3 separate regions of the Homo sapiens genome follow, and all the other regions are linked to region 3. The links come from fine-mapping of genetic effects on gene expression. A gene starts in region 3. Each other region holds a variant in brackets. All regions are shown on one strand. Distances are between the middles of the regions.

Region 1 (8,161 bases), 33 kb before region 3:
AAAAGCACAAAATTTCAAGAATGTTTTTCTTCTATGGTCTGTATGCTATTTATTTTTTCAAAACTGAGTTAAGAATATTTATAAATGCTTTGCCCTTTGTAAATGGTATATAAACTTTTTCATCTCAAATGTACACCCTGCCCATCTGTCAAAGCGCTATAAAGTCATAAGGCTAAAGATAATTTTAGACCTGCATTAGTATTACAGTTGTCATTAGCACACATTAAACTGGGAGCTAAAGAGCGTGTGAGATTCCAGGGTCCTTGTGCTGGTGTACTTCTCTAGAATTAGCATTATAAAAATACATATCTAAACATCTCACCATTTTCTGTCTTTTGTTTCTTTGATGAAGCTTTCTTCTTCCCTGATCCACTTTCTTGTTTAGTCTCTTGGTGGAGGGGCAATGCTTCTTGCCTTTTTGATGGTACCATGAGAGTTTCCACCTTTTTATCCTGGTCATCTTTATTAAACACAAACAAAAAAAATAATTGTGGCAAACAATGAACATAACGGAAAAGATGCAATCACTGAGTAATTCCCAGAATGTTTTACCACTAAAAATTTAAAGTCTGACATATAACGCTCTCACCAATAACTTTTTCTAGCTTTCTTACTCCACTACACCAGCTCTTCAATGTACTTACTCCTCCTTTCCCATTCCTCAGCTATTTTCAACCCTACTGAGCCTATAGGCATGATCAAGTCTCTATCATCTTAAAAAATAAACAGCAAGGTGCAGCTGCTCACACCTGTAATCCCAGCACTTTGGGAGGCTGAGGCAGGTGGATCACTTGAACCCAGGAGTATCACTTGAACCCAGGAGTTCCAGACCAACCTGGGCAAAGTGGTGAAACCTCATCTCTACAAAACTCCATCTCTACGAAAAAAATAAAAAAAATTAGCCAGGTGTGGTGGCGCACACCTGTAGTTCCAGCTACTCTGGGGCTGAGGTGGGAGGATAGCTTGAGCCCCGGAGGTCGAAGGTGCAGTGAGCCAAGATCACACCATTCACTCGAGCCTCAGCAACAGAGCAAGACCCTGTCGAAAGAAAAAGGAAAGAAAGAAGAAAGAAAAGAGAGAGAGAAAGAGAGAAAGAAAGAAGAAAAGGAAGAAAGAAAGGGAAGGAAAGGAAGGAAAAGAAGGAAGGGAAGGGAAGGAAAGGAAGGAAAAGAAGGAAGGGAAGGGAAGGAAGAGAAAACCCTTCCCCATCACCATAATTCCCAGCATCCCACATCCATTTCCTTACATATTGACAAAATACTCTTAGTTCCTTTTCTACCAATCATTCCTCAGCTAATTGCAACCTGATTTTTATCTCTTTCATTCCACGAAAGGATTAACTCAGATCCCCCAGTGTCCCAAATGCCATATTCTACAAATACTCATTACTCCTTATTTGACTACTCTTTGGCATTTTATACTTTTGGTCTCTACCCCTTTCTTAAAATTATCTCCTCTCCATTATGCTAAGTAAAATATGGCAGTGACAAAAAGATAAATATCGTATAATTTCACTTATATGACATTCCCAGAGTAGTCAAATTCATAAAGACAGAAAGTAGAAGGGTAATTGTCAAGATATGGGGGAAGGGGGAGGGACGGGGGAAAAGGGGGAGGCAGGCAGAATGGGGAATTAGTGTATAATGCGTACAGAGTTTCATTTGGAAAAGATGAAAGAGTTCTGGACTTGGCTAGTGGTGATGATTATATAAGAATGTGAATGTACTTACCACCACAAAACTACACACTTAAAAGTTGTTAAAATAGTAAATTTCATGCTGTAATTTGCCACAATAAAAATAAATAAAATAAATTATCTCCTATCAGTTCCCATGATAATTCTCTTCTTACACTTGAAATATTCCTTTGCGGTATCCTTTGGGAACTGCTTCTACTGAATACTGCTTGTTCTCAGGGTTGGGGCTTCAATTAAAATACTTCCCTTGGATGAGCTATCTACTCCCATGCCTTCTACTACCTTCACGCTTAAGGCTTCTGAATCTACTTTTCTACATTTACATACCCTACTGCATCCTGAGTTGCTCTACGTAGATGGCCCCACAGGCATTGGAAACACAAACTGGAAGTGTTCTCTTCTCAATTCACATCTAGTCTCTCTCCAGTATTACCTATTTTAGTGCTACCAACCATCTGCCAAGCACAAGTTGGCAAACTTTTTCTGCAAAGGGCCACGTAGTAAAAACTTTAGACCTTATAGGACATATGGTCTCTGGTACAACTATTCAAGTCTGCCACTGCAGCATGAAAGCCAGTCATAAACATATTATGAATGAGTGAATGAATGTAGCTGCATATAAAAACACTTTATGAGTACTGAGATTTTGACTTTTTTTTACATTTTTACATTTCTCAAAATATTATTCTATTTCCCAACCATTTAAAATGCAAAAAGTGTTCTTGGTTCATGGGCATAAAAAAAGGAAGTGGGCTACATGCGGCTCACAGGTTGCAGTTTGCCAACCCCAACCTAACTCAGAACTTGGGAGATCAGCTTTAATCCTATCTTCTCCTTTATCTGCCACACCTCTATATAGTGAGGTTATTCGTGTCATTCTTACTTTGCATACTTCTCAACTTTGTTTCTTCTGTCACTACCATAGTTCAGGCCTACATCTTAATTTTAGAAAACTAAAATAACCTCTTAACTAGTCTGCCGGCATCAAATACTGCCCCATGAAATCTGTTCTTGCTAGCTCTGCCAAAAAAATCTTTCTAAAACAGAAATATGACCATGTAACTAAACTGCTTGAAAATCTTCAACAATGGCTAACCTAAGAAGTCCTAGCTCCCTGGCACAGTATCCAAAAACCACCATGATCTAGCCACTGCTATCTTTTCAGCTCTGTTCCCTACCACTCTCTATACCTCACGTTGTATGGCTCAATAATACACTGTACTCTTGCAGCTCTGTGCCTTTACATGATATTCTGCCAATGAGTAATGAGACCCCACTATCTGCTTGATGAAGCGATTCAATGCTCAGGAACTGCCTCCCCTGTAAAGCCTTTCAGCCCAGCATAAGCAGTAGTTGCTTTAGCTTCTATATTTCCTCTATACTTTCTCTATCTCCTACATAAACCACATTTTTTTTACTGGCTTACGTGTCCTTTTCCCCAACTAAAACATGTAGTTCTTACTATGCCTTGATCCTAGCTGACATGCAAATATTTAAAATCCAATACAACCGGGTCAAGCGTGGTGGCTCACGCCTGTAATTTCAGCACTTTGTGAGGCCAAGGCAGGCGGATCATTTGAGGTCAGGAGTTCGAGACCACTCTGGCCAATATTGTGAAACCCCATCTCTACTAAAAATACACGCCTATAATTCCAGCTACTCGGGAGGCTGAGGCAGGAGAATCACTTGAACTTGGGCAGCAGAGGACACACTGAGCCAAGATCGCACCACTGCACTCCAGCCTGGGTGAGAGTGTGAGACTCCCATCTCAAAAAAAAAAAAAAAAAAATCAAATATAACCTCCTACAAGTTAAGACACACAAATGACTTAATGGTACATACAAGTCCTTTCAAATAAAACAAACTGTTTACAGTTTCACACATCGCCACGCCAATTTTCAAGGCTTTTCCATTGTACCTATCAACCCCCTTTCCCTGGAATCTCCCTCCCCTCCCCATCCACCCAAAAAACCTAACTAGTACTTAACCAAACTTTAAAAATTTCTGGCATTACTTGCTTTAAGTGGTCTACCTTAGAATTCCTACACTGGTTTAGACATATCTAGACCATTACACTAAATCTTTCATAATGACCTATCTGTGTCTACAGCTAGCACACGACTACCTCGAAAACGCACTATTCATCTCTGTAGCCCTAATACCTAGCATAATGCCTAGCATAAAACAGATATATGATAAATGTTAGCAAAATGAAGCAATCAAGGGTGAGAAATGATATCTGATTTTAGCTTTTCACCTTTAATTCTTACCATATCATTTAGAAAGTTCGTAACTGCTGATATTTACAGGTCCTAAGTGGTTTTAAGTAAAATAGCCAAAGTTGGATATTTATAAGATGTATGGGGTTTTTTTTTTTTCTTTTAATTTCTTGTAGAGATGAGGTCTCACTTTGTTGCCCAGGCTGGTCTCAAACACCTGGGCTCAAGGGGTCCTCCCACTTCAGCCTCCCAATGTGCTAGGATTACAGGCATGAGCCACTGCATCAGGCCCTGAAGTTTAAAGTGCTATTTTATGATCAATACTAATTTCTACCAGCAATTAATGTTAATGAAGCAAACACATAATGAAATGAATAATCATGGTTTCAAATTCAATATTAAACATTCTGTGTATGTACCTAACAGAATATCTCAATTCCAAGCTCCAAATCATACAATAAAATTAAATAGATTAAATAGATTACAATACCGCTTCCATTTTTAGACTTCTTCTGCCCTGGTTTCTTCTTCGAGGCAGCTGCTTCAGAGGGAGGGGTGGGCTGTTTAGTAACTGGGACAGGTTCTACTTTTTTGCCAGGAATCTTTGATGCGTCACTTTCTTTGATGACCTGCTCTTCAAGCACAGGCTTTTGTTTCTTTTCCTTCTTTTTTCTTTCCCTAACACTACTTGAAGTTTCAACGACATTCAATGGAACAGGTGCAACTTGATCATCTTCTAC[T/A]GCCAAAGCATCTGATAATTTAAAGTCTCGAGGTACACTCTCAGAGTCGGATTCATGGAGGTTTCCATTCTGGATTTCTTTCTTTTTATTCTTTTTCTTTTCTGCTTTCTTTTTATCTGTTTTGGTAGGAATAAGCTTTTGTTCTCTTTTCTGTTTTGCAAGAACTTCATCATATAATGTTTCTTTCATGAAAAGCCAGAAGAAGAGGAAAATTACTGTAATAACTATTGAAGGAATAAGAACAATAAAATATGCTGACTCATAAAACTCCATGGTACTTTTGTCAATGTGATCCTATAAAACCTAAATAGGGAAGAAGGTGGGGACAAAAAAAAAAAAAGAACCTGTCAGTCTCATAAAAATTAAAGTCAAAACTGCTGCTCTTTCAAGTGGCATTTCAAATCTAACCTGACCTACAAATCTAAACAGGTTAGTTCTTTAAATCACATTCTTGATTTATTTGCCAACTACAATTCATATATACTATGAAAAATAAGACAAGTGGTAACTAGAAGGAGTAGAAAACATCCTTCCATTTCTAAATCATGTGAAAATATCCTAATTGAAGAGAAAAAATTTAAATATTCATTACTTTCTTTTCCCGAAATATCCACTTTTGGTACTTTATTAGTAGTTAACTTTTTTGTTTATTGTACAGTGTTGATAACTACTACACGTGAAAATAAGGAGGTACTATTACCAACTCAATGGACATTCATTAAAAGTGTCATATTCTGAAATGCACACACACGCAAAAAGAGGTGGTTTATTTACAGATTAAGACCAGTCACCAACTGCTTGCATCTTTACACCAGTGACTATCAGCCTCATGATGCAGTGGGATCTATCAAGGATATAAAAATCTAATAAAATTAAAATTGAAATGTTAGGATGTGGCATTTTGCATTAAAATAAATTACAGACCAAGCGCAGTGGCTCATGCCTGAATCCCACCACTTTAGGAGGCTGAGGCAGACGGATCACTTGAGCCTAGGAGTTCCAGTCTACCCTGGGCAACATGGCGAAACCCTGCCTTTACAAAAAAAAAAAAAAAAAAAGACAAGAAAATTAGCTGGGCGTAGTTAAGTGAGCCTGTAGTCCCAGCTACTTGCAGGCTGAGGTGAGAGGATCACCTGAGCCTTTGAAGTCGAGGCTTCAGTGACCTGTGACTCTGCCACTGCACTCCAAGCCTGGGCAACAGAGCAAGTCTCTGTCTCAAAAAAATAAAATAGTGAAATAAATTACAAGTTAGGAACTTATCTCAGTTTTTTAAAGGCACCCCATACTGCACAAAACAAGTTATACAGCAAAAGCGAGGCTGCCATCAACATCCTACCGAAATTGCTAAATAAAAGGCTTTGCCTCATCAACAGAACATCAGCCCTACTTTTAGATGGACTCAGTAAGTACGCCCGGGGCGGGAAGGGGGCGGGTGGCGATGTAATTTGACTACCAACATCTGCCTTGAATATACATATCACTTACGTGAAGGGTAGTTTCTGCTAAAATTAAATCTCAAAGTATAAATGATTCTGATGTTGAGATTCTAGATATTGATGCTCCTTACAAACATGCATAAGCCACATAAAAGTGACTTGTATTCTTATTCATCTCAAATGTGTTGTAGAAAAAGACAAGGTATATAATACAGATATAATTAAACATCAGGACATGTTTAGGATAAAGCAAATTAAAGTTAATTGCTACACTTTTAATGTAAAAATAAATCTGAGAATTTTTTAAGTTTTTAAATTATCAATTTGGAGAGTCTTGATATGTCATGATTAGATAAAGAAACCAAATTCTACCTAAACGGGTAACTTATTCTAAGAATTATTTTACACCTAAGAAAATACCTGATTTTAAATTGGATAAATGTGAGTTTATTGAATATAAGACTTTGCCAGAACTGTAACAACACGGGTTTGAACTGCACAGGTACACTTACACATGAATTTTTTTTTTAACCAATTGTTACTGAAAATACGTATTTGCTGGACGTGAAACCCAAGTATATGGAGGGTCAACTTTGTATACTCAGGTTCCACAGTACTCCAGGACTTCCAGCATGCTTAGATTTAGGTATACACAGGGGTCCTGAAGCCAATCTCCTGCATATACCAAGGAATGACTGTCGTTTGTTCAACAGGCATGCTATTAATCTATATGACTGAAGTAACATTTCATACTTCCATAAGCAATTTTTTAATAGTATTAGTTATACCCTAGATTTACTAAGACAAGGTTTTAACAAGTTAAGGGGGAAAAGGAATCATGTGCTAACAAAATACTAAAAGAAACTCCATACAGAATTGTTTCCCTGATAATTCAAATTAACATGAACTATCCAGGTTTTAAAATTAGACACATTTCACTGTGCCTCCATTAAGTGTGATTCGTCAACCAGGAATGCTTTAAAAGAGCCCAGAATTTTTTTTTAAACATAGCATCCATAGAATACACAGCCTATTCAACAAAAGCTGGGCAGTCGAGGGAGAAAAAACACAAAACAATGAGTTGGAATGCTTCGAGTTTTTGCTTTGGTGAAGAAGAGACGCTAAGGCACTTAGCAGCAGTAATAGAAGCTGAAAAAAGGGGTAAAAGTCAAAAAGGCCTAATGAATAAGCTGCAGCCCTGTACAAACCTAGGTTTTAGGAAAGCAGAAATTATGATCAAGCACAGCAAATTCACCTGTATAGAAAGAAAAAGTAGCAAATGTTCAAGAAGAGAGGGTATGAGACCACAAGAATTCTGAAACACTGATTCTTCAAATGTTTTAATGATTTTCTAGTTTCCTTTCCCAGGTCCCATATATAGGCGTGAAGGAATCAAGCTTTCTGTCTCTGGATTTTCACGGGAGTCTCTCTTCACACAATTCAATTCACCTTCACTTGAGCTCACCTGAGTCTCACTATGCATTTAGAGGAACCTAACTAGACACCAAGAGATGAAGAATCAAGAAAATGTTTGCTGCAGCCATAAAAAGGAATGAGATCATGTCCTCGGCAGGGACATGGATGAAGGTGGAAGCCATCATCCTCAGCAAACTACCACAGGAACAGAACACCAAACACCACATGTTCTCACTCATAAGTCGGAGTGGAACACTGAGAACATATGGACACAGAGAGGGGAACAACACACACCAGGGCCTGTTGCGGGTGGGGGCTGAGAGGAGGGAACGTACAGGATGGGTCAGTAGGTGCAGCAAACCACCATGACACACATATACCTATGTAATAAACCTGCACGTTCTCCACATGTATCCTGTTTTTTTTTTTTTAGAAGAATAAAAAAGAAGAAAATGTTTGCATTCCTTTAACCCAACAATCCCAATTCTTTATCCCTAGGAATTTATTTGCAAGAAAAAAACATATAGAAAGATGTTCACAGGCTGGGCATGGTGGCTCATGCCTGTAATCCCAGCACTTTGGGAGGCCGAGGCAGGCGGATCACTTGAGGTCAGGAATTCGAGAGCAGTCTGATCAACATGGTGAAACCCCGTC
Region 2 (8,186 bases), 37 kb after region 3:
TGGCTAATTTTTTGTGTTTTTAGTAGAGACAGGGTTTCACCACATTGGCTAGGCTGGTCGTGAACTCCTGACCTCAGGTGATCCACCCACCTTGGCCTCCCAAAGTGCTGGGATTACAGGTGTGAGCCACTGCGCCTGGCTGGCAGTGTGCCAATTCTTGCAGGCTGGTTATTTACATGCTTGGCACCATGGTTCACATCATTCAGAACTGTGTAGGCAATAGGTATCCAAACATACCTTATAAGACGCTCCATATTTGCAGGCGCTATTATTTTGTGAATTCTTGATGTAGTCTTATTTGTTGTCCAAATACCAATATCTCTTCGAGCTACTTTCTCTTTATTAATATCCATGATCTGTGAGATATGATTGATGAAAGACTCCATTCTTCAAAGTTGAAAGGCTTGGATGTTCACCAACTGGAGTACATTGTTAGACACTGTAGTTTTTTGATAAGTGACACTAACTGGAGGTCCGGTTATGTAGGCTTTGGTCTCTTCTAAAGCTTTTCTCTTGTCTTCACAGTAGTTCGCCACCTGGTTCAGGTTCTGGTAACTCTCTATCAGTGCCCTCTTGTGAGACAGGATCTCCTCTAGTAACATCTGCAGCTCTGCCATTTTCCACCCTTCTGTATCGGTTCCTCTTGCATTAAAGAAACAGAGGCAGAAAGTTCTACTGAGGCTCCCAGCACCTCATAGCCTGGATCCAAACCACCTTGCCACCTGGTATTGTCAATTTGTTAATATTTTGTTGAGGATTTTTGTATCTATGTTCATGAGAGATATATCTGTAGTTTTCTTGTAATGCCTTTGTCTGATTTTGGTAGTAAGATAATTATGGCCTCACAGAATGAGTAAAGAAGTACTACTTCTGCTTCTATTTCTAGAAGAGACTGTAAATAATTAATGTAATTTCTTCCTTAAATGTTTGGCAAAGTTACCAGTGAACCCATCTGGGCTTTCTGTTTTGGAAGGTTATTAACTATTGATTCAATTTATGTAGTAGACACAAGTCTATTCAGATCATCTATTTCTTCTTGCATGAGTTTTGGCAGATAGTGTCTTTCAAGAAATTGGTCCATTTTTATCTAGGTTATCAAATTTCTGGATATAGAACTGTTCATAATATTCCTTTATCATCCATGTATTAATAATATCTATGGGATCTGCAGTCATGTACTCTTTTTCATTTCTGATATTAGTCATTTTTGTTCTCTCTCTATTTTTCTTAGCTTGGCTAGAGGCTTATTACTTTTGTTGACCTTTACAAAAAACTAGCTTTTTTGTAAAAACTGATTTTATTGACTTTCTCTATTGACTTCCTGTTTTCAGTTTCATTGATTGCTGCTCAAATGTTTATTATTTCTTTTCTTCTGTTTACTTCGAATTTAATTTGCTCTTCCTTTTCTAGTTTACTTAGGTGGAAGCTTAGATGATTGATTGTAGATTTTTCTTCTTTTCTAATATATTTATTTAATGCTATAAGTTTCCTTCTAAGCACTGCTTTCACTGCATCCCACAAATTTTGATAAGTTGTATTTTCCTTTCATTTAGTTCAAAATATTTTTTAATTTTTCTTGAGATTTCTTTTTTGACTTATGTGTTATTTCGAAGTGTTTAATCTCCAAGTATTTGGGGATTTTCCAGATATCTTTCTGTTATTGATTTCTAAGTTTAATTTCATTGTGGTCTGAGAGGAGATATTGTATGATTTTTATTCTTTTTAATTTGTTAAAAATTAAATGGGTCTGCCTTGGTGAATGTTCCATGGAATCTTGAGAAGAATCTATCTTCTCCTGTTATTGGATGAAGTAATCTACAGATACCAACTATATCCTGTTGATGGATGGTGCTGTTAAGTTCAACTATGTACTTACTGATTTTCTGTCTGCTGTATTTGTCCATTTCTGATACAGGGGTGTTAAAATCTCCAACTATAATAGTGGGTTCATCTATTTCTCCTTGCAATTCTATCAGTTTTCACTTTATGTATTTTGATGTCCTATAGTTAGGTGCATACATATTAAGGATTATTATGTCTTCTTGGAATACTGACCCTTTTATCATTATGTAAGTTGGTTTCTTTTCTTTTCTTTTCTTTCTTTCTTTTTTTTGAGACAAAGTCTTGCTCTGTGGGCCAGGCTGGAGAGCAGTGGCATGATCTCTCACTGCAACCTCTGCCTCCCAGGTTCAAGTGATTCTCCTGCCTCAGCCTCCCGAGTAGCTGGGATTACAGGCATGCGCCACCATGCCCAGCTAAGTTTTTTATTTTTAGTAGAGACAGGGTTTCACCATGTTGGCCAGGCTGGTCTCGAACTCCTGACATCAGGTGATCCACCGGCCTCAGCCTCCCAAAGTGCTGGGATTATAGGCATGAGCCACCACGCCCAGCCGGTTGGTGGATTTTTTTTCCTCCTCTTAGTACTTTTAAATATTTTACTCCATTCTCTTCTTGTTTGCATGGTTACTGTGGAGAGGTCATATGTAATCCTTATCTTTCTTCCTCAAAAGGGAGATTATTGTTTCTCTGGCTCTTTTCAAATTTTTCTTTGTCTTCATCTGAAATTTGAATATAATATGTTTAGTTGTAATTTTTTTTTTTTTTTTTTTTTTGGCATTTATCCTGCTTGATGTTCTCTGAGCTTCCTGGATCTGTGCTTTGGTGTCTGACATTAATTTGGGGAAATTCTCAGTCTTTATTGCTTCAAATATTGCTTCTGTTCCTTTCTTATCCTTCTGGTATTCCCATTTATGTATATGCTATACTTTCTGTAGTTGTCCCACAGTTTTGAATATTGTGTTCTGATTTTTCAGTCTTTTTTCTCTCTGCTTTTCAGTTTTACAAGTTCCTATTGCCATATCCTCTAGCTCAGAGATTCTTTCCTTAGCCATATCCAGTCTCTAATGAGCCCATCAAAGGCATTCTTCATTTCTGTAACAGTCTTTTCATATCTCTAGCATTTTTTTAGAATACTCATCTCTCTGTTTATGTTATTTGTCTATTCCATGTTGTCTACTTTTATCATTAAAACCCTTAGCTTATCGATTATAGTTTTTTTGGGAGAATTTGTATTATTTTAATTATTTTTATATACAGAAAACTCAACAGTGTACCTTTAACTCACTTTGGTGGCAAGTTCTTTAGCCTTTGCCTTTTCCATATGGGCAATGTGAGCCACAGACTTGGGACCCAGGGCCTTGCCTCCCCAGTGACGGCAGATCTCATCAGATCTGTCATTGTAATTGGTCCTGATAGCTTCCACCAGCTTAGCCAAAGCCCCTTTGTTTTCCGAGTTAACCTGTGTGAAAGCAGCATTGGTGCAGGTCTTCCTGTGGACTAGACATCCCAGCCTTGCCTTCCTTTTGATAACGCAGTAAGGGACCTCCATTTTATGGCACAGGGCAGGCAGGAAGACAACCAGCTTGATGGGCTCGACATCCTGTGCAGTCACCACGGGCTGAGCCTTCTTGTTCTCCACCAAGGTGGTGACGGTGTTAACTCCTGCTCGAAGGACCGGTGGTCTCTTAGTGGGGATGCCCCCTTTGCCCAGAGCTTTCTTCTCAGCCAGGGCCAACAGCCTCTGCTGCTTCTCTTGCTTTGTCTCTGGGCCAGCTTAAACAGCTGAGTAGCTGTTTGGCCTTCCAGGTCCTGGGTAAACTGGTTAATCGCAAGAGGCACTTTCAGCCGCTT[A/G]TAGAGAATGGCTCTCTGCCCTCATATAGTGGGGCCATTTCACAAAACGAGTGAGCTCGCTTTCAGGCCGGATGTCCTGTCCGATGCCAGAATTCTTAGGCTTTTTCTCAAACAGGGATTCACCACTTTCTTGGCCTGCTGCTTCTTTACGACAGCAGAGGCCAGAGCCACCTTTTTGCCCTTGGCCTTCTTTTCAGCATCTTGGGTGGCAGGAGGAGAGAGCAATTATAGTTTTTTAAATTCCTAGTCAGATAATTCCAACATTCCTGTCATATCTGAGTCTGGTTCTGATGCTCATTCAGTCTCTTCAAACAGCATTTTTTGCCTTTTAGTATGCCTTTTAAGCTTTTGTTAAAGGTGAACATGGTGTACTGAGTTTTAAAAAAAAAAAGTAAAGTAAATAGGATTTTAGTAATGCAGTGGTAAGGTGTCTGGGCGGAGGGGGAGGAAGTGTTCTATAGTCCTACGATTAGGTCTCAGTTTTTATTGTTGTTGTCTTTCTTTTTTTTTTTTGAGACAGAGTCTTGCTCTGTCGCCCAGGCTGGAGTACAGTGGCGCAATCTCAGCTCACTGCAACCTCTGCCTCCCTGGTTCAAGCAATTCTCCTGCCTCAGCCTCCCAAGTGGCTGGGATTGTAGGCATGCACCACCATGCCTGTCTAATTTTTGTATTTTTAGTAGAGACGGGGTTTCACCACGTTGGCCAGGCTGGTCTCAAACTCCTGACCTCTGGTGATCCGCCCGCCTCAGCCTCCCAAAGTGCTAGGATTACAGTTGTGAGCCACTGCACCCAGCCTGGTCTCAGTCTTTTGTTGAGCCTGTGCCCCTGCACTGTGAACTTCACAAGTGCTTTTCAGGTGTTTTTCCTCTTAGGTGAGACAAGATAGCTAGAGGAGGCTGGAGTTGGGTCTTTCACTTCCCCCAGGTAGGTTAGGCCGTGATAAAGCCCCAGCAAGTAGGGCTCTGGTAAAATAGTTTCTCCTGAGGCAGGCCTTGTTAGGAAAAATAAAACGCTCTGGTGTATTTCAAAATGGTTTCTTTTTCCCCTCCCCCTGCCAGAAGCACAATATTTATGATCTAATATCGTATGTATAGTTGCAATGTTTTTGGCATTTATCTTGCTTGATTTTGAGCTTCCTGGATCTGTGGTTTGGTGTCTGACATTAATTTGGGGGAAATTCTCAGTCATTATTGCTTCAAATATTGTTCCTATTCCTTTATTATCCAATAACATTATCCGATATTTATTGTGAGGAGCTGGTAGAGTTCCCAGAAGTAAAACTCACAAAAGTGTGCCCCCATCCCCACCTTGACTGGGTCTCCCTGGAATTTTTAACTCTGAGAGCTGCCCACACTGAGCCTCTATTAATTCATCAATTACAGTTCAGTTATCCTGTCACTGGTTCCGCAGAGGTTTCTGCTCCAGTAAGTTGTGATTCTGCTTCTGCCTGTCTCTCTCCAATCTTTGAGGCAGCAGTTTGCCCTGTGATCTCACTCTCTGACAGATCTAAGAAGAGTTCTCGATTTTTCAGTTTGTTCAGCTTTTTACTTATTGTAAGGCCAGCGTGGTAACTTCTAAGCTTCTTATATGCCAGGTGGGAAACAAGAAGTCCTATCTAGGTTTTTTAAAAATTCACACATCATATGTAATTTATCTAAAATTGACACATATTACTTATATAGTAAAGAAAAAGGCTCATTTTTGCTTTTGTTTTTCCTGCTTGACATATGCAGTTTCTTCCTCAGTAAAGCTCAAGTCAAAGGCTTCTAAGGCTAGATTCTATATAAGGAGCAAACAGGATTTGGGAAATACTCTTCTACTATAGACCATGCTTTATCATAATGGCTTTTAAATTTGCATTTGTTGCCTCGTGACCACAAAATAGCTGTTGTGATTTCAGACATTATATCTCAATTCAAGGTACGAAGAGAGGAAAAGCAGCATAAGCCCCGTCTGTCCTTTTCACTAGGAAGACAGAAAATCCTCAACAAATCCTGCTTCAGTCTGGTTGACCAGACCTATGTTTCAGGGATGCTCCCAGCTACAAGAGGCTGGGAAAAGAAGCCTCTGAATGAAAATGTGATGGGCAGGCAAGAAAGGAATTGAGAATGGCTGCTGGGTTAGGCAATCCAACAGAACTTTATAATATTTGAAAATGGTATTAACCTTTCCTTCACATTATTGATTCATTCCTTCTGCACAGACAAGAATCAGACATTGACTAAGCTTATGAGTTTACTGTAACCCTGCTGACTCATAGTGTTTATTCAAAACCAATACCTTGATATTATCAACAGAGTCAGGACTGAGAGAAACTGTTTTTAATAAAACAATTTAAAGTTCTAGCAGGAGAAAACAGGGTTGTTTTAATCTCTACCAACCCCACTTTCCCACCTTATTAATTATACTTTTGGAAGATCTGGATAAGCCTACTCAATCTTCAAGTCTCATTAAATATTTCCTCTTTATTGAATCCTTCTCTAGATCGTAGATCAGTTTAAGAACTCCCTGCTCTATGTTCTCATAGGCCTCTGTTCTTCGCTTATCACAATACTAATGCTTTATTTCAATTCCTGATTAGAGTTCTGCCTACCTGACTAAAGAGCAGAGTTCATTGAAGTCAAGGATTGTCTTCCCTGTTCACTGCTGATATATAGTATAGACTTGTCAATAAATGTTTATTGAATGAATGAATGATTGCATCCCCCTTCCAACACCACCAAAAACTTCAAGATATCTATTATCCTATAATTGTCACACAGGGTCAAATTAGGACATCGAAACCACTCAGAATAGTTAAAGCAGAGGGAATTTACTACACTGACTTGATAACACAGGAGATAAAAGATGCTGAGACTGGATCTCAGCATCTGAGACTACCTGAGAAGACTACCTGAGAATGGATGTTACCTCAGATGGGCAGAGCAACAGCAGGAAGCTCTTAGGACCCTTGGGTTGGAGGGACTATATGAAAAACTAATATTACTACAACCCCAACGGGTCACAAATGTACAGCAGAAGTCCCAGTACAGTGTGGCTCACCTGGGTCCCCTATTTAGAGTCTCATAAGGTCAAAATCAAGATGTTGGCAGGGCTGCACTCCTTTCTGAAGGCTCTAGGTATGAATCTGCTTCCAAGCCCTTTCAGGTTGTTGGCAAATTCAGCTCCATGATAATGTAAGACTGTGGTCCCAGTTTCCTTTCTTTAGTGTCAAATAGGAGTGACTTTCAACCTCTAGAGGCTGCCCCCACATTCCTTGGTTCATGCCTCCCTTCATCTTCAGAGCCAGCAATGGCAGATCAAGTCTTTCTCATGCTTCCAATTTCCCGGACTTCCCCTCTGCCTTATCTCTCCTGCTCCCAGCCGGAGAACTCTCTCCTGTTTTAAGGGCTCATATGATTAGAGTGAGTCCACATGGCTAATTCACAATAATCTTTCCATCTCATAACCTTAATCACATCTACAAAGTCCCTTTTGCCAGGCAATGTGTGGACATCTTTGAGGAACCATTATTCTGGCTATAACAGCCTCCCATTAGTCAAACTCAGCTAGATTTCAGTTGGTACAAGGTGCTGAGAAACAGGCCTGCAGAGCAGGAGAAGAGTGAGGAATATATCTGAGGACAAGCAGGCTCAGTATCACTACATTTTAAGATGACAACATGTTTTTTCTTCTCAAACTTCGACTGGCCTAACAGATAATTGGCCTGATTTCAACTTGTCAAAGATAATGAATTAATCCCAATTACTATAAAAACAAACGAACAAAACCCACAGTGATGACATACCTGAAATTATATTAATTCAAATATAAGGCAATTGTCAATTGGCTTCCATTATCTGCCCAACCCTGATTCTCAAACAAGAGTCAGCGAAAATTATTATCTTCAGCAGAGGAATATGAAAATGAGGCCTAGGCCAGGGAGGGAAAATGCATACAATTCCAATCTCAAGAAGTGCAGAGTTTGAAGTGAGTCCCTGAGTCCACAGTATATTCTTGGCCCAGTCTCTGGATTAAGCCATCGAGATGAGAGCCAACTAACCCAGAGATTCCTGGAATCATTTTTGCTGTCCCAGAAGACTCAGCCAGCCACAGGACCCAGAATTGTCCCCAGAAATATTTATGTCAATAAACTGCTGCCATATGATATCAAACTCCAGCAGGGACCAGGATAGACTGGATAGCAGAGTCAAACTCTTAAAATTATCCAGGGCAATCAATGAACAACTCTACCTTGTTGTAATTTTGCACTCTGAATAGTTTTATTAACCACAAAATAACAAGACTGCATTTTGTACTGCTTAAGTTTTTGGACCACACAAGTTTCAGAGATGGTATTTACAGTATTTCAAAACTCAAACGATCATTTTTGGTAATCATCCTCCAGCATTCAACTTGCTTCTAATTAACAAGCCTGCATGGCAGCAGTGCCTAAAAGGGTTACTTCAACATTGAATTTTGTGAAAGCAACAAAAGAACTGTTGACAATAACAGAA
Region 3 (8,184 bases):
TTCACTGTGCATAGAGAAAGTCACTGTAGCATTCTGAGAAGATAAGTAATATGATCCAGTTGTTGTGTTGGAAAGACTGCAGGGAGTTAGGGCAGAGGCAGGGAGATCAGTTAGGAGGCTAATTGCAGAAATCTAGGTAAGAGATAAGAATGGCTTGCACCAGGCTGGTGAGCAGTGGAAGCAGTAAGTACTGATTGGATTCTGGTTATATTTTCAAGATAAGACAGAGCACAGAATGCCAAGTGTGAAAGAAATAAGTCAGGGATGACTCCAACGTTTTTTTACCTGAATGTTTGATGGAAACATCAAACATCAAACATGTTTGAGGAAAAATACGGAAATTTAGTTGGAGTTGACTACTGCACATCCAAGTGGATAGGCCTAACAGCACATGTGGAAAGTCTGGGTTGGAGATATAAATATGGGAGCCATCAGCATATAGGTATTTAAAACCATGACACTGGATAAGATTGTCAGAGGAATATAAAAAGAAAAGTGAAACAAGGACTGAGCATGTCAAGTTTAAGAGTAGAAGATGTAAGATAGAATGAACAAAGCAATTAGGAAGGAGAAAGCCCAAAAAGCAGAATGTCCTGGAAGAAGAGTGCAAACAAATTACATTTAGTGTACAAATCACTTTGCTGAAACCAGATTTAAGTTACGGAAGAGTTCTTAATCTCCCTGTAGTAGCTAGGACGATTCGTAAAATACTAAATCATAACTTTTTTTAGGGTATGTCTTCTACATTTCCGAGGAATATTATATTTCCTATCAGAGTATCTACTAAAACTATTGTTAGAATTAAAAGTATATCTTGCCTATTTTCTTTTACATAAAACCAATTAAAAGCTTGTACCATTTTTTAAAAAAGAAAAATAGCCTAGTTTTCACTGCCACCTCTGTCAAAAACACATTTAAGCACAACAGCTCGGCACACAGTTGTAAACTGTCATTATTTCTCTTTCTCTAGACCTCAGATACAGAAGGTTAAATTAAACCCCTTAGTTCACAGCACATAAGGTTCTTCCCCTTAATGTTTAATTTTCTATTTATAGAGGAGGGAAAAAGGCTTATATTCTCATCTAGACCAATATTTTCCCAGTGATTTGAAAATAAATTACATTTTTTGATTGGGACAAAGTCATGTTCACAGGAACTGAAAGAGGAAGCAATGAAATGCAATTCTCTTTGAGCATGAGTGATCACCAATGTCACTTCTAGAGAAATAGTTACTTGCTTGTATCCTCTAAGTATACTCTGGATTTACCTTCAAAGTCACTAAAAACAGTACAGAGAACAAGCAGGTCATAAGGTGTATTCTCAAATATATGAACGATCTTGCAAAGCACGATTTTTCTCATTTCCTTATTACATATTAGGTCAGATTCCCAAGAGAACCAAAACCTTCCTAGAACCACTTAAGTTCATTAACAATTTAATATTTTAACAAAGTATTGGAGATCTTTCAGGTTAAAACTTCATTTGCTATAAAAATTATAGGCATACAATTAAAAACACATGTTCCATTCAAGTTAAGAAATTAACTTACACATAGGAAATGTATAAGACACATTCAACTTTTAAAAAAACAATTATGATTCAGTATTCTACGTGTCATCTTAACCATGACAGGCTGATTAAGAACTTTTAACCATAACTTAACATTCAAGTTAAGAACTTAAGAACAGTGACAATCTTAATATGGGTTCTTTAGAAGTCTCAAAAAGGTTTTCACGTCTTAGGCTCTTTTAAAAAGCCATATTGACTGATATTAAAAATATAATTATTAAAACGATCTCCCTACCAAAAGCAGATTAAAGCCTATAAACTAGAAGGGAGACTGAAGTGAGGCATTTTTAGGGACAAACACAACATCAAACAGAAGAGACTACTGGTATTAAAAGAATACAGAAAGATCTAAATTGGAAACAAAATCGTAAATGTCTCTTCATAATGCTGACGCTGAATCATTAAGAGTTAAATACTTGATATTCTTTATAATTTTCAAGTATTAAGAAAATTTTTCAATAGATCTTGTTATATTTTCAAATTCATTATCAGCCTCAAGTAAATCAAGTAGAACACCTTATTCTCTAAGCTCACTTGATAAGGTATTGTTATGTCTGATGAAGGCTACAAAATTAGAAGAGACATTTGAAACTCAATGTTGGGGTGGGAGGGAAACTCATGAACAGACCCAGCTATTTCAGGTTAGATCCTTAAACTAAAAAAAAAGGAAAAAGGAAAAAAAAAAAGAGCCTTTTTTATCAGGCAGCACATCAAATATGAAAGTCTACTGCAAGGCATGTCTACCCAAAATACTCAAGAGTAATTTAGTGTTATTCTTGGGATCATTATCCCAAGTCTCACCAGCTTGGGATCATTATCCCAAGTCTCACCAGCAATTGCTTCGGACCAAACTGGAGACACTGTTGCCATTAGCCTGCTAGGTAAGCTAAGGAAAACAAATGCAACCTAATTTAGCAAAAATTCTAACTTTAAGTCAACTCCTATACAATTCAGAACCTTTAGTTCACCGAAGATGCTTATCTTTAGCTGGGCTGGCCATGAGTGTCTACATTTCTCAAGGCTTTCCACAAAGTCATCACACACACACACACCTTAACAGTTAACTTCAACCGTAGCTCTTTACTCAAGGCTTTCCACAAAGTCATCACACACACACACTCACACACACACACACACCTTAACAGTTAACTTCAACCGTAGCTCTTTAAGCACTACTAACTTAAATAGCGGCTAAGGAATCCGTTTGCCAACACAGTTCTGAATTTAGATTCCTCCTTCCTCCCACAGGAAAGAAGGGCCAACACTGAACAGCTTACTTTCAACCTAACCTAGTCAAGGTGCAACTGGGGCCGGCTGGGACGCCGCTGCCCGCGTCCGGGGCTGCCCACATCTAGTGCACCCAGCGCCTTCACCGCCAGCATGCGGGGCTGCACATCCCACACCAGACGTATGGCTGAGAGCCAGACGACTTCTCTAGACTTCCCGCGTAGTTTTCCGGCGAGGTCCCCAAGGCCAAAAATCTCACTTTTGGAAACTGAAGGGGTCAGGCCGAATCGCTAGGACACACCCCTCGGGGACAGGAAGGGATAACTTCGCCGGTGTCGAGAGTGGTCCATGGATTTTTCCAAAGTCCCCCCTCATGCTGCTTTCCGTGCCCAACCGCCTCCCGCCCTGACCTGGGGACTCGCAAAGGGCAGCGGGAGGGGCGCCGGGGAAGGGGGCGAGCGCCCAGACCGCCGGAGGCAGCGGCGAGGACTGGAACTCCAGCATGGCGTAAGTGTGGCCCAGCTCCGGCCCGGGGACGCCGCCGGAGACGCGCTGCCTCCGTCCACCGGCCGAGGAGGCGGTAATCCGCCTTCCCTCCCGGGGGCCCTCAGGCTTGGCTAAAAATAGGTGCCTCGGTCACCCCAGGGCCCGCTCGGGTCGACCTCGCCTTCGGGAGAGTCGTCCTTGGGGAGGGTGGGGGGTGTCCCTCGGCCGCGCCCCGGGTGCCGCGACAGAGCCGGGGTCGGGCCCAGAGCGGCCCCGCGAGGCCGAGGAGGTCCCTCCGAGCCCGCCCCCTGCGGCGTCCCGGCCCCAACAAGAGCCCCGCGGCGGCAACCGGATGCCCGAGGCCTACCCAGCGGGCGGCGTCCGGGCCCCGCGGCCGCGCCCCCCCGCCCGGCGCGGCCCTCCCGCCTGCCCCAGGACCCCGCGGCCGGCGCCGCCTCCCCCCGCGCTCCCCGCCGCCGGCGCCCGTCCCGGTGCGGCCTGCTCTCCCTCACCCTGTGCGGCCGGGAAAGGAGACCGGGAAGACGCGGCGGCGCCGGCACTACAGCCCGGGCCGCCCGCTCCGAGGCGCCGCCGCCGCCGCCGCCGCCGCCGCAGTCGCTCAGGTGCCGTCGCGCCGCTCGGCAGGAAACGGGCGGCTTCGGGGCGGGGCGGGGCGGACCCGGCACGTCCTGGCGTCTGGGCCGGCGGCGCCGGGAGACCGGCCCCTTAAAGGGACAGCCGCCGGCCCGCCTCTGCCTCCGCGCGCCTGCCCACGCGCTCCGGTACTCGCTGCTCGCGGCTGGCCGGCTCGGGATTCCGGGCTTTCTTCCCGAGACCGCGTCCCCCAGCTGGGCCGAAGGTGGACGCTCAGGGGCTGGAGGCTCAGCGGAATCCCCTGCGTTCAGTAGCCCCGCTCTCCCCTGTCCCGAAGGTTGGTCTCGTCTCGCGCGGCCCTCCCTCCAGGGCACCACCTGGCTCCCCACGCCTTTTAACTTCAGCAAACGGCACTAGATTTACCCCCTGACTATCCCAGATTTCCCCCAGAAATTACTGGAAAACGACATCCCCCGTCCCTTTCTCCAGGGGATCTCTCTGAAATCTCCTTCGGGCAACGCTAGCTACAAACGGAGAAAGAAATTAGAAAGCGACCCAAATAATGGTCGGGCGCGGTGGTTCACGCCTGTAACCCCAGTACTTTGGGAGGCCAAGGCAGGCGGATCACCTGAGGTCAGGAGTTCGAGACCAGCCTGGCCAACATATAGTAAAACCCGTCTCTGCCAAAAAAAGTACAAAAAATTAGCTGGGCATAGTGGCGCACGCCTGTAGCCCCAGCTACTTGGGAAGCTGAGACAGGAGAATCGCAGGAATCTAGGAGGCGGAGGTTGCAGTGAGCCGAGATCTCGCCACTGCACTCCAGCCTGGGCGAGAGAGTAAGACTCTCCGTTTCTCTCAAAAAAAAAAAAAAAAAAAGGAAAGAAAAGAAAGCGACCCAAATGAGTTGTGTGCAAACATTATGAAAGTGTTGTGACTGCCAGCTGGTAGCCATTTATGAAGCCGGGGTAAAAATCTAGAAACTGCTGCGCGAGGAGGGATGGGCCCGGATCTCTCCTTATTCGTTTGCTCTTTGCTGAAAGGATGGCAGCGATCCTCCCCGTCCACTGGCAAGTGAGTTTCGTGTGGATTGTTTACCGATGATCAATCTCTCACAGGAGGCCAGGCACTGCCCCACTACATGTACAAAACACTCCAAGCTGTCCGCAAATGTTATGAAGGCTTAAAATAATCCTAACGATTCCAGACTGTGGATAGAGATAGAAAAAATTAGGACTCACCACCACCACCTCGCCCTACATCTGACAAAGTGGGAACAGAAGCAGTTAAGGAATGAACAGCAGAACCGTTTCTACACCAACAGAATTTCCTGTACATGGGCTGGTTAAAAGTATCCATACTTTTTATTCTAATCATTTCTAAGTTTTCTAGAGCACCTCCAAAATACAAATGAAAACTGCGCAGTGTATAGTGGCCTGAGATATTGAGAATTCTGCCAGTCTTCAGTCACCGTGTTCTCCACAGATGCATTGTCTTATTTTAACTCCAGAGGCGTCCTCTTTTTTCTTTCTCATTAGGATTACTCTGCCCCTCAGCGGTTCCAGTGCCCTCAAAGCAATCTGTCTCTGAAGTACTGGCTATCTTCTGAGCGTGTGCCAGAAGATCCAGCTTTGTTGAAAAGCGAAGCCGTTAGTCCCTTAATACAAAGGGTAAGTGTATCATTTATGTAATGGAGTTTAAGGGCTCTTGATTAGCTTACAAACAACCATGTTATTTCCTCAGGTTAGTACTAACGCAGGTTTTAGGTTAGAATTAAAAATTTATATCATTCATTTTCCTGACCAGTAAAACCGCAATGTCATTTACAGGCAATAATATTTCGGTGCACTTGTAAGTAAGACAATGAGTGGAGTTTAGGATTTTCTCAAAACATACTACTGCTTATACTAAAGGATGACTTTGTATCACCTATTTCGGCTTTTCTGGCGTTTGAACTTTGACTATAGAAAGGGAAGTGGTTGAATGCTTTATTTTTTATAAGCTTTCTATTTATTCACATCAAAACAAAAAGATTTACTAGAGGCCGGGCGCAGTGGCTGACACCTGTAATCCCAGCACTTTGGGAGGCCGAGCTGGGTGGATCACCTGAGGTCGGGAGTTCGAGACCACCATGGCCAACATGGTGAAACCCCAGCTCTACTAAAAATACAAAACTTAGCTGGGCATGGTGGCAGGTGCCTATAATCCCAGCTACTGGGGAGGCTGAGCAGGAGGATCGCTTGAACCCAGGAGGCAGAGGTTGCAGTGAGCCAAGATGGTGCCACTGCACTCCAGCCTGGGCAACAGAGCAAGACTCTGTCTTAAAAAAAAAAAAGATTCACTAGAAATGCTATGCTTCTCTAGTGTTATGCATAATAGGCAAGCCCTATTATGAATTAACACCAACCCTCTAGGTTTTAAAGTGTAGTATAATATAATTAGCTATAGTTAACACATATAATTAACCTACGATATAATTAACTTTGGCTGCTATTTACTACCCTCCAGTGTCACTGAAACCAACAACTAACTTGTTAAAAAGGATTAGCAACACACCCAGCATCTGAGGTACCTCTAGTTGCAACAACTAAGAAATTAAATTTTATTGAAAACTATAAAGTCTAAACACTGTTACCTAAAGAGCACACATCCTATTTTTTTTTAATTTAACAAAATTGCAATTTACTGAAGACTGTCTTCTGAATTTTTTGCGTGTAACAACTCTTTTTTCTGAGTTTGGGGAAAGTTTTAAAGACAAATAATACATGCCTGCCCTGCAGATGGAGAACAAGCTGGCTATTCCTGTTTTGACTAGGGTAGTTTTCCCATAAGTGGTGACTTGTGTAGAGATTTGAGTAATGCGTGAGTAACAGATTATATCTCTTGACTCCACAAGATCAGGGATAGCAGAAATGAAAGTATAATGGAAGCAGCTGGAGGATTCCAGGTCCACTTTCACCCAAGTAATGGAGACGGAAGGTTCATCGAAACTTCTTCAGCTGCAGATCTAGAAGTCATTAGCTATTCTAGCAAAGTATCTGTCACAGAAAGGTGCTTCATAAAGGTCTGCACTGTGCTCTTTTGACCTGTGTCTTCAAGCATGTGCTGTCATAACAGATTAAAGATGACTGAAAATTATCTGCCACTCATTGCGTGAAAGGTGGGATCTGTAGACCTCCCTCTTGAATTTGGGAGGGTTCTGTGACTGCTGTGACCAATGAATATGGCAGAAGTGACGCTTTGCCAACTTCTGGGTCCAGGCTATACGAGACAGGCAGTTCCACTCACTGTCTCTTAGATCCATGTAAAAAGTTCATCTACCCTGCTGGAAAAACCATGTAGAGAGGCCCTGAGACTACATTGGGTGGGAGAGGGGCTCAGCTGCACCATCTTCCAACTGTCCCCATCAAGATGACAGAAATATAAATGAAGCCTTCTTGAACTCCAGACCATCCATGCTACAAGCTAAATGCCACCAAGCGACCCCAGTTAATACCATGTGGAGCAAAAATATCACTTAACCAAGCACTGCCTGAGTTTCTGACCCCACAGAATTCTGACCCCATACAAATAAAATAATTTTTGTAATTTTTTATAATTCGTCATGTAATAGATAAATGGAACAGCCTTCTTCCAGTCTTTTAAATAGCTGCAAGAAATCTTATTCAAGCAGAAGGAAGTTTCTACTTTGTTCATACAGTCTCAAGACATCCCTGGAGCCTTTCAAGGGAAATTTGGGCAGAAGTAGGTAGAGAGGTAAAGCTATTATGTAACATTACTTAACATGATTAAAACCACCTTAATGTCTCCCATCCTCAAAGGCTGCCAGTGAATTGGAAATTAATGGATTAAATGAGGACAGAGAAACTAGTATTTGTGCATATGCACTGTGCCAGGTATTTAACGTATCTTAGCTCATGTGGTCTTCGAAACAACCCCATATTGTAGTATCAGGCTCACACGGGTAACTAACTAGTGCAAAGACACAAGGCTCACAAACTGCTACTTGACCCTAGAGCTCTTTGACTCCGATTCCCATGTACGTGCCCCAATACCATGTTGACTCCCAAGGTGTAAATCTTCAGGTATACAAACTATTAAAATGTGAATTTTCATTTATACGCAATTTTTGCTTATGATATGTTTTTTGTCACTTGCATAATAATAGATATGTAACTTTAAATCAGCAATATTATACTGGCTATCAACCAGTTTCATGTAAATTTTTCTAACAGAAAGAATGTAGCATTGAAATGTGTACATTTTTGTCCAAGTACACCTGGCAATTGAAAGAAAAAATCCAAGCCACTT

Evidence for each region. PIP is the estimated chance that this variant, and not a neighbour inherited with it, causes the effect.
Region 1: its variant is fine-mapped to the expression of KTN1 in whole blood (TOPMed, PIP above 0.99).
Region 2: its variant is fine-mapped to the expression of KTN1 in whole blood (TOPMed, PIP above 0.99).

Annotation. Positions count from the first base shown.
Region 1 is chr14:55,608,816-55,616,976 of GRCh38, reverse strand. KTN1 (kinectin 1) reads right to left here. Exons shown (of 44, transcript NM_001079521.2): 2 at 4,406-4,958; 3 at 323-460. The coding sequence starts at 4,928. Among named protein-coding and RNA genes, the nearest start is that of KTN1, 33 kb to the right of the region's middle. The variant T/A (reference allele first, on the strand shown) is at 4,656.
Region 2 is chr14:55,539,105-55,547,290 of GRCh38, reverse strand. It overlaps the pseudogene RPL7AP4 and the pseudogene ABI1P1. Among named protein-coding and RNA genes, the nearest start is that of KTN1-AS1, 37 kb to the left of the region's middle. The variant A/G (reference allele first, on the strand shown) is at 3,691.
Region 3 is chr14:55,575,965-55,584,148 of GRCh38, reverse strand. KTN1 (kinectin 1) reads right to left here and starts at 3,942. Exons shown (of 44, transcript NM_001079521.2): 1 at 3,795-3,942. It overlaps KTN1-AS1 (KTN1 antisense RNA 1), which reads left to right and starts at 4,057. Exons shown (of 3, transcript NR_027123.1): 1 at 4,057-4,213; 2 at 5,412-5,543; 3 at 6,770-7,992. RefSeq lists silencers at 2,624-2,918, 3,098-3,737, 3,798-4,057 and enhancers at 4,498-4,587, 4,598-4,717.